Linked DNA regions of Homo sapiens: region 2 is linked to region 1. The links come from fine-mapping of genetic effects on gene expression. A gene starts in region 1. The other region holds a variant in brackets. All regions are shown on one strand. Distances are from middle to middle.

The links. PIP is the estimated chance that this variant, and not a neighbour inherited with it, causes the effect.
Region 2: its variant is fine-mapped to the expression of OR52K1 in whole blood (TOPMed, PIP 0.95).

The regions. Positions count from the first base shown.
Region 1 is chr11:4,479,633-4,485,025 of GRCh38, forward strand. It overlaps OR52K1 (olfactory receptor family 52 subfamily K member 1), which reads left to right and starts at 3,014. Exons shown (of 2, transcript NM_001005171.3): 1 at 3,014-3,544.
Region 2 is chr11:4,390,987-4,396,379 of GRCh38, forward strand. It overlaps TRIM21 (tripartite motif containing 21), which reads right to left and starts at 2,716. Exons shown (of 7, transcript NM_003141.4): 1 at 2,647-2,716. RefSeq lists enhancers at 2,607-2,816, 2,837-2,896. The variant A/C (reference allele first, on the strand shown) is at 3,050.

The DNA.
Region 1 (5,393 bases):
TATAAACAAACATGGAAAAGAGCATGAATTTTAAAAGGTATTTCCAACAAGAGAAATCTTATTTTCCCATTGACTTATACGGGGAATAACATCATCCTTAAGGTCATATCTATCCCCAGTGAAGAAATAATTTTGTTCCCAGAACAAGTCCAGTAGTATAAGGATCCCATAGACAGGTAATATATCAACATAACATTAGCACAGCCAGGATTAGTCACAAATAGTAAAAGGAAAATTACCTTCTCTATGAGCTCATTTGAGTTTAGCACACAATCAAAACATGAATAAGAAATATGAGTAGCCTACAGGCACATATAATTTTATACCCATATAGATGGGTATATAGATTAGGATAAAGGAAACTTGATGCAGTTATCTAGGCCTAGATGCAATACTTCTAATCACTCAAAAACTAGGTCATCCCAACATTCCAAGCTAGGACACAGAGGTGCACATCATCCTTAAAGTAGGATCAATGCTTGAGTATAGGATCCTGTTCTGCCTAGCAACCCTCACAACACCTTCCCACCTACGTGTTCCTCAAGCAAGGAGTCTTGGTGTTATCTTTGATTTCTTTTTCTCTCACAGCCTGGAGCTAATTTTTCAGGAATTCCCACTGGCACTTAAAAAATAGATATAAAATCTGATACATCTGATTTCTCTCCATATATATGATTAACACATTGATTTGGAAACACCATCTTCTCTCTGGATGCCTACAATAGCATCTGTAATCCTTTCTCTGCTTTCATCCTCATCATCTTGTGCTGTTCCCATTAAGTCAGAAGCAATATCTAAAAAACATATGTCAAATAATGTCAATTCACTGCTCAACCTTGGCTTTTATTCCGAGAGAAATTATGAACCTTTGCAAAGTGAAATCCTTACATGGCTGATATGGTTTGGCTCTGTGTCCACACCCAAATCTCCTCTCGAATTGTAATCCCCACATGTCAGAAGAGGGGACCTGGTGAGAGGTGATAGGATCATGGGGGCAGATTTCCCCCTTGATGTTCTGTTTAAAAGCGTATGGCCCCGCCCCCATTCCCTTTTTCCTGCTCCGCTGTGGTAAGACCTGCTTGCTTCCCCTTCATCTTCTGCCATGACTAAGTTTCCTGAGGCCTCCCAGCCATGCTTCTGTACAGCCTGCAGGAACTGTGAGTCAGTCAAACCTCTTTTCTCCATAAAAGTACCCAGTCTCAGGTAGTTCTTCATAGCAGTGTGAGAACAGACTGATACAAAGGCCTACAATGTTCTGTGTGATCACAGCTAACTGGAAAAAAAAAAAAAGAAAGCAGCACCCAGGTATGGGTAGGGCACATTATATTCACAGGATCAACAATAAGACTGATATTAATAGATACTTGACTTCAAAAAAAGCAAGTGAAGGCAGAATACAATTAATATACTAAAGTGGATGAAAGAAGAATTGCCCATTTAAAAACCTATTCAAATTGAAATAGAATTTTAGACAGAGGCCCGGGAGGTGAGTCATCTTTCACAAACAAAGATGACTAAGATAATTTTACAAATGAGCAAAAGTTGATGGAATGTGTCACTATATGGCCTGTAATAAAAGCAAAAATAAAAGTAGTTTTTCATGCAGAAAAAAAATGATCCAGATGGAAACATGAAAAACCTGGAGGGAATGAAGAACACCAAAACAAAGATGCATATGAATGTAAAAGAATCTAGATTTTACAAAAGAAAAGATAGGGTGGGGAGGATGTCAATGAATTAAACAGTCTAAGTGTTCCAATATTCCAGCAGTTATCTCCAGCATGGTTTGAGCCAATGGCCCCACTGCCCACTCCCCCACTCCATGTGCTTCTTATCCTGCTCCTATGATGTCAGGATTGCCCATTCAGAATGGAGTTGGGGGCAAATTAAGGTGCTTTGTTCACAAAAACACTGTCTATTCTATCTGGCTCTTGTCTGGCTTTTATCTGGCTTTTGCCATATTAGGTTTTGGTGAGGTGCTTTTCATACAGGCTGTATCCCCTTGGCCTAGCTGTACATTGTTAAAACTATGTAGGAATTCCACTTTATCCCAGCATCCCAAAAGATCAGACTTATCATGGAGGAGTGCTGAGTCCACACCCTTGAGGGCCAACTATTACAGAAGGGGAAGTTAGTTCCAGGGTACCTGTGTGGGAAGGGAGTGAGATGACTGAGTTACAGCGTTCTGAGATTGCTTTTAAAAATTATGGGGAATTAGGGTAGACAAAATCCATGGAGAACTCTAGTGAAAAGCATCTTCTCAGGTCCTTGAAAAATAGCACACATTAAGTCAGCTGTAGGTAGAAAGATCACTCTTTATCATTTATAGATGATTGGTAATTTCCTAATTATTAATAAGGAATCACATTCATAGTGGCCTCTTGTTTATCTACTTAGATCCTCCTATCCTTGTGAGTTAGAAAATATTGTAAAAGTTATCTCTACCTTAGAGATAAGAAAAATAGATCAGGGATCAGACAGGTGCCAGATCAAGTTCACGAGCTGGTTATTAATGCATATCTCAGGCCAATATGAAATATGAATGCAAAATAAAATGCCTAATGGATGACCTTGGCCTGGTCAGGCTGGACTCCCTGCCCTTTCAAGTCAGTTCTGACAGGAGTTGCCTGCAGTGTATATTTTCTGATGAGGCTGGCTTTCTTTGAAGACACTGTAAGGATAAAGAGTAAGGAGAGGCACAGCAAACACCAAGACACAAGCCAGCTCCACCTGAAAGTCTCACAGCCTCTGGCAAGTAGGGCATGACCCCTGGTAGGCACAACTCAGTGCCACTAGCTGGGGAGGAGGCATGGGTTGTAGGAAACAAGGATACAGTCCCCTTGGGTCAGGGGAAGTCCCCTTGCATCAACCCAGAGAGAGGAGGCCAGAGATGTCTCTGAGGACTCTGCTCAAGTGCAGCAGTTTCTGCTTCCACAGCCTTCTGGGAGAAGGGCAGAGGTTGGTGAGGATTAAAGCCAGCTGCTCGCTTCCCAGCTTCCTCCTTCTAAGACTCCTTAGACTGAAAGAGGAAGGCGGCACTGGTGCTGCATGAAGCTAATGAAAAGGGCCCAGGATTGTAAGTCAGACTGAGGACTGTGGATACAGCTGCAACTTAGGGAAATAGAAAACAAGTGATGTTATTGGGGTGAGCAGGAAGGTGGGAGTGAGCTGGAAGGTGGGGGCACTGTCAATTTCTTCCCATAGCCATTCCTGATCTTAGGCATCAGCTCTCCAACCCTGTTATTGCTTCTACTCTGGTCCTTCAATAGAGGGAACAGAAGTCTCGATAGTCCCACCCAACTGTTTGGTACACAAACTCCAGATGCTCTCCCCACCACAGAGGATGCCTGCTTCCGTCCTATGCCAAACACTGTGGGCCATCTCCAAGAAGTCTTAGTTGATTATTCCAGTTTGGATCTGTCACTTCTCACCTCCTGTCATTGCTTTTTCTAACCCCTGGCAAATGCCCCATCCCAGTTAAAGGGCTTCTGCATTAGTCAAGAGGAAGAAAACGAGGCCTGAACTAGAAAGATGGCAGGGAAAGGTAAGAAATACCTTATCTTTGAGGTTCTTCTACCAGAAGCAGTCCTGAAGTATCTTGATTATGTGATTATCCTTCCTTGTCTGGTTCTAAGTTTTTCAGATATGTCATTCTGATATCCTTTTAAGATAAAGGTATAGGCAACCAAATAGATTCAGTATTAATTGAGTCCATTCTGGGTACAGAGGCCTTTTTTAAGGAGAAATAGAAGATAAATCCTTTGAGCATGGACATCTTAGTTCTGAAAACAATGAACAGTCTGGACAAAACTTGCACTACAGAGGAGGTCTTAGTTTCTGGATATTAGGGGAAGAAGACTGGCTCCATTCACACTCCTACTCAGAGCACTTCATTCTGAGGAGTTGATTTTAGATGAACTTCAAAGGAAGTAAGATTTATGAACTATTAGACACCCTGTCTTTTCAGGAAGAAATCTGATAGAAGAGATGCCTTTTTTTCTTGTATGAAGATGGGTAGACAGCTCACAGGGTGGTTAGTGATGTTTAAAAGTTGAATGGAGGAATCTAGGGGGACATGGAGACTCAAAGTAAAACATGTGGGTTTTGTGGAAAATACATATTGAGATAAGGTAAAGATGCAGCAGGTTTGTGGGATTATTTCACAGTATTTTAGAAGAGTTTCTTAGACGCCAGGCATGTTTCTAGGTACTGATATGTACTTGAAAATAAAAATGTCTGTTGTCATAAGAGCTTGTTCCTGACAAAAATGCACAAACATTATGAATATTTAAAATAGTATTTTCCATTAAGAAGAGAATTTTATTCTGATGCAGGTAACAAAGTATTGTAATCGGGATGCTTAGAACCTCCATTCTGGATGCATTTTAAATGAGAAGATAACCCAAATTCTGAGCTTAAATCACATGAGGGGAGTAGTATTCTGAGAAATATGTCTTCCAATAATCTAGTAGTCTGTTTTATTTAGTGAAATGTTCCACACCTATGTATGTTAGAGGCTGGGTTTACAGAAGGAAAATAGGTAGAGTTTCTTAACTCCAGTCCCTTCACTTCATGATATGGTGGGTAATTGTTGAAGGATAAATATTGGAGAACAAAGTGGAACTTTGTGTACTTGTTAGGATTCTTTTGTAGCAGTAGTTGCTGGGAGATGCTGTGGCTTGAACAAGGGTGATGGTGTTGGAAGGGTGGAAGTGTTGGAAACGCAATGGGCAACGTGGAGATTTACTATGTAGGATGATCCAGTGTGCTTGCTGATGATTAAATATGATGCAGGAAGAAAAGAGAAGAATCCAGGATGACTTGATTCTAGGTTGAGCAACTGGTTGGGCAGGATGTTACGTTCTGAGATATGGGCAGCACAAGAAGAGAAGTAGTCATGATTTCTGCCTCAGGCATGGCAGGTTTGACATATCTGTGAGGAAGATATGTGGGGATATCGAGTATGGAGTTGGATATCCTAGTCTGGAGCTTACAAGGAATGTAAGGTATGTAAATTTGTGTTTGTTTCAGGATATGTTTATATTCTCAATGATCAACCAGCAGACCACCTAGAAAGATGCAATATTCACGGTCTTTTCAGGAGCAGTATTCTCTTTCTTCGTCTAAGTTTCAACTTTTCCCCTACTACTGGATAATTTGCTTCAGCTAAAGACATGATACTTCTGTTCTAAAACACACAGACACACACACACACACACACACACACACACACACACAGTTGACTTCGCTTTCCATTTTAGCCAGTGCCCTATTTACTTGCTGTCCTTTGCTTCCAAATTCCTCAAAAAAGTTAGCCATGTTAACAAACTTCAATTCCCCTCTTATCTATTCTAACTCAGTCAAGTCAGGCTTTGCCTGTCTCTCTTCTAGCA
Region 2 (5,393 bases), 89 kb before region 1:
GGGAAAACTCTCTAGGACATTGGACTGGGCAAAGATTTCTTTCAAATATCCCACAAGCACAGGCAGCCAAAGCAAACTTGGACAAATGGGATCACATCATGTTGAAAAGGTGCTGCACAGCAAAAGAAACAATCCACAAAGTGAAGAGACAGCCCACAGAATTGGAGTAAATATTTGTAAACTATCCATCTGACAAGGGATGAATAACCAGAATATATAAGGAGCTCAAACAACTCTATAGGAAAAAAAATAATAATCTGACTCAAAAATGGACAAAAGATCTGAACAGACATTTCTCAAAAGAAGTCATACAAATGACAAACAGGCATATGAACAGTTGCTCAACATCATTGATTATCAGAAAAATGCAAATCAAAACTACAATGAGATATAATCTCATCTCAGTTAAAATGTCTTTTCTCCAAAAGACAGGCTATAACAAATGCTGGTGAGGGTGTGGAGAAAAGGGTACACTCATATGCTGTTGGTGGGAAGGTAAATTAGTACAATCACTACAGAGAACAGTTTGGAGGTTCTTCAAAATACTGAAGATAGAGCTACCATATGATCCATCAATCCCACTGCTAGCATATACCCCAAAGAAAGGAAATCAGTATATCAAAGAGATATCCACACTTCCATGTTTACTGCAGCACGTTTCACAATAGCCAAGATTTGGAAGCAATCTAAGAGTCCATCAACAGATATATGGATAAAGAAAATGTGGTATGTATACACAATGGAGTACTGTTCAGTCATAAAATATAATGAGATCCTGTCATTCACAACAACATGAATGGAACTGGAGGTCATTATGTTAGGTGAAATAAGCCAGGCACAGAAACACAAACATTGTATGGTCTCACTCATTTGTAGAAGCTAAAAATTAAAACAATTGAACTCATGGAGTTAGATAATAGAAAGATGGTTACCAGAGGCTGGGAAGAGTAATAGGGAGGGTCTGTGTGTGGGGGAGAAGATGGGATGGTTAATGGGTACAAAAGTGGAGTGAATTAGATCTAGTATTTGATAGTACAACAGGGTGACTATAGTCAATAATTTAATTGTACATTAAAAATAAGAGTATAATTGCATAGTTTGTATTACAGATGATCAATGCTTGAGGTGATAGATGCCCCACTTACCCTGATGTGATTATTACACATTGTATACCTGTATCACAATATTCCATATACCCATAAATATACCTACTATGTGCCCACAAAAATTAAAAATATACTAAAAAAAGAAAAACAAAATGATGCAAAGGAAAATAAAAAATAAGAATAAAAATAATGGGTCAGGCACGGTGGCTCACACCTGTAATCCCAGCACTTTGGGAGGCCGAGGTGGGTGGATCACCTTAGGTCAGGAGTTCAAGACCAGCCTGACCAATATGGTAAAACCCTGTCTCTACTAAAAATACAAAAATTAGCTGGGAGTGGTGGTGGGCACCTGTAATCCCAGCTACTTGGGAGGCTGAGGCAGGAGAATTGCTTGAACCTGGGAGGCAGAGGTTGCAGTGAGCCAAGATTGTGCCATTGCACTCCAGCCTGGGTGACACGGCGAGACTCCCTCTCAAAAACAAAACAAAACAAAACAAGGCATAAAATTAATGGCAAAACAATTAATGTCAAAAACAGTAATTACTTTTGCACCGATCAAACAGTTTGTTGAATAAGTTTATTCCTGTTCTGAATAACAAGAACTCCTCCATTGTTTGGTCCATTGATCCAGTGAGACAGAAGGAGAAACTGAGTCCCTAAAAGAGGGAATGAAAATTGGCAAGAACCTCATAAAGCTGTTGACAGTTCTACTCTCATCATGTCCATTCCTGCTTAAACCCTCAGTGCTCATCCATCTCCTGTCGGGTACCAACAGGCCTCCATGTTGCTGAGAAATTATAGCTACTTTTTACCATGTACCTTCCATGTGCCAGAGATACTTCATGCTTTGAATATATCTTCATTAATCCCTCCTATAACGGCGGAAGTCAGTTGCATATATGTATGTAGGTGTATATGTATGTATACACACAGAGTAACAGGAACCGTGGCCAGCACTCCCTGGGCTCTTTTCTCAGCTGCTCCAAACTTAGTTTAGTTCCTGACAACACTTATTCTAGGACAAAGAATAATTCTGAAGGCCTATACATTTCTGGTTGAACATCCTAAACAGCCTGCCCCTCTCACCTCTGGAGGACTTTTGGACCTGGGAGTCTCCAGAATTGCAGACCTCCCCGACACTGGGCTCCCTACCCTCCTGGCTAGGCTGTAGTCCTGGCTATCCCAGCCACACCCAGCCGTCATCCTAGGTCAGGTGCCAGCATGGGGGCAGCCGGGCCCCTTCCCCTTCTGGGTAACTCCACAGTCACGTCCACAACCCAGCCTCCTCCCAGGTAGGGGGCAGCCGGGCCCCTTCCCCTTCTGGGTAACTCGGCAGTCAGGTCCACACCCCAGCCTCCTCCCAAGCAGGGGGCCAGCACCGGAAGCGCAGCTGGTCTTGGGTTGAGGGATCCCTGGTGGGAGAAGGGGCAAATGGGACCGGCTCAAGGATGGAGACTGGAAGGGGCTCTGCAACCCTGGGGCAGGGGAGAGAGGTCCCCTAGGAGGGCAGGGGTCCCTTGATCTAGTGGGGTTCACTCACCTTTACAGGGGACTCAACGCTGGTAGCCAGCTCCCTATTTCACTTTCAGTTTCCGCTCAGAAGCAAGTCTGAGAGGAAAGGGGAGGGAGGAGGAGGAGCCGTGGGAGGAGTGAGGGAGGAGCAGTGGGAGGAGCAGAGCCTTGAAAGGGTGTGTGGAGAAATGCGGCTGAGAAGAGAAGTCAGAGTTGAGCTGGGGGAGGCTTCAGAGGCTCTGCATGCCCAGGAGGCTTCTCTGAGACTGGGAAGGAGTGGAAACTCAGTAGCCCGTGGTCCTGGTTGCGCGCTCCCTCCCATGTCTTCATTATCTGATTTGGTAAAATATCTACAAGACGGGGGAGTCCGGGCTGCTTTCTTTGACACTGGTCATCACTCCACACCTAGACGCTATGTCCATGTCTGGAAG[A/C]TGCTTTTAAGGAAGTTTTGATGCAGAGAAGAGTGGCCGGTGCTCTTCCTCGCGTGCCACCATCTGCTTACTTCCAGAAGCTAATTATTTTCATGTGACTGATGTGACTAATATTTTTTAACGCCTGCAGGTGAGTGATTTATTTCGCATGACCCCAAGGTGAGTGTCCCACCAGTGAGTGGTGAGAAGGAAATTGACATTTGACAACCAACTGTGTTCTTGTCACTGAGCTAGGGACATTCTCAGGTTATATTATTTTTATTTTTAATCGTAAAAATATAGAACATAAAATTTACCAAAGTAATTTTTTTAATTTTCAATCTTGTGTGTCTATAGTAGGTGTATATATTTGTGGGGTACATGAAATATTTTGATACAGGTAGAGCATACAATCCGTAATAATCATATCAGGGTAAGTGGGGTATCTATCCATCACCTCAAGCACTTATCATTTGTGTTATATACAATCCAGTTATATGCTTTTAGTTATTTTAAAATGATAAATTATCATTGACTGTATTCACCTTGTTATGCTATAAAATACTAGATCTTATTCATTCTCTCTCATGTATTTTTGAACCCATTAATCATTCCCCACTACCCTTCCCAGCCTTTGGTAACCATCATCCTCTCTATCTTCATGAGTTGGATTGTTTTAATTTTTAACTCCCACAAATAAGTGAGAACATAACAATTTGTTTGTTTGCCTGTGTTTGGTTTATTTTACTTAACATAATAATCCCCAATTCCATCCATCTTGTAGCAAATGAAAGGTTCTCCTTCTTTTTATGGCTGAATAGTGCTCCATTGTGTATGTGTACCACACTTTCCTTATCCATTTATCTGTTGATGGACACTTACGTTGCTTCCAAATCTTGGCTATTGTGAATAGTGCTGCGATAAACATGGGAGTGCAGATATCTCTTTGATATACTGATTTCCTTTCTCTTGGATATATACCTAACAGTATTTCTTCTGGGTATATACCTAGCAGTATCCAGTAGGATTGCTAGATTACATGGTAGCTCTATTTTCAGGTTTTTTTTTTTTTTTGAGGAACCTTCAAATTGTTTGCCATAGTGTTTGTACTAATTTCCATTCCCATTGACAGTGTATGAGGGTTCCCTTTTCTACATATCCTTGCCAGCATTTGTTATTGCCTTTCTTTTGGTTAAAAGACATTTTAACTGAGGTGAGATAATATCTCGTAGTTTTGATTTGCATTTCTCTGATGATCAGTGGTGTTGAACACATTTTCATATATCCATTTGCCACTTGTATGTCTTCTTCTGAGGAATGTCTATTCAGATCGTTTGTCCATTTTTGAATCAGATTATTATATTTTTTTCCTATAGAGTTGTTTGAGTTCTTTGTATATTCTGGTTATTAATCCCTTGTCAGATGGATAGTTTGCAAATATTTACTCCAATTCTGTGGGTTATCTCTCTACTTCATTGTTTCCTTTGCTGTGCAGAAGCTTTTTAACTTGATGTGATCTCATTTGTCCAGTTTTGCTTTGGTTGCCTGTGCTTATGGAATATTTGAAAGAAATTTTTGCCCAGTCCAATGTCCTGGAGAGTTTCCCCAATATTTTCTTGTAGTAGTTTCATAGTTTGAGGCCTTAGATTTTTTTTTAAATTATACTTTAAGTTCTAGGGTACATGTGCACAACATGCAGGTTTGTTACATATGTATACACGTGCCATGTTGGTGTGCTGCACCCATTAACTCATTTACATTGGATATATCTCCTGATGCTATCCCTCCCCCCTCCCCCCACCCCAGGACAGGCCTCAGTGTGTGATGTTCCCCTTCCTGTGTCCATGTGTTCTCATTGTTCAATTCCCACCTATGAGTGAGAACATGCGGTGTTTGGTTTTCTTGTCCTTGCAATAGTTTTCTGAGAATGATGGTTTCCACTTTCATCCATGTCCCTACAAAGGACATGAGCTCATCCTTTTTTATGGCTGCATAGCATTCCATGGTGTATATGTGCCACATTTTCTTCATCCAGTCTATCATTGTTGGACATTTGGGTTGGTTCCAAGTCTTTGCTATTGTGAATAGTGCCACAATAAACATATGTGTGCATGTGTCTTTATATCAGTATGATTTATAATCTTTTGGATATATACCCAGTAATGGGATGGCTGGGTCAAATGGTATTTCTAGTTCTAGATCCTTGAGGAATCACCATACTGTCTTCCACAATGGATGAACTCGTTGACAGTCCCACCAACAGTGTAAAAGTGCTCCTGTTTCTCCATATCCTGTCTATCACCCATTGTTTCCTGACTTTTTAATGATCGCCATTCTAACTGCTGTGAGATAGTATCTCATTGTG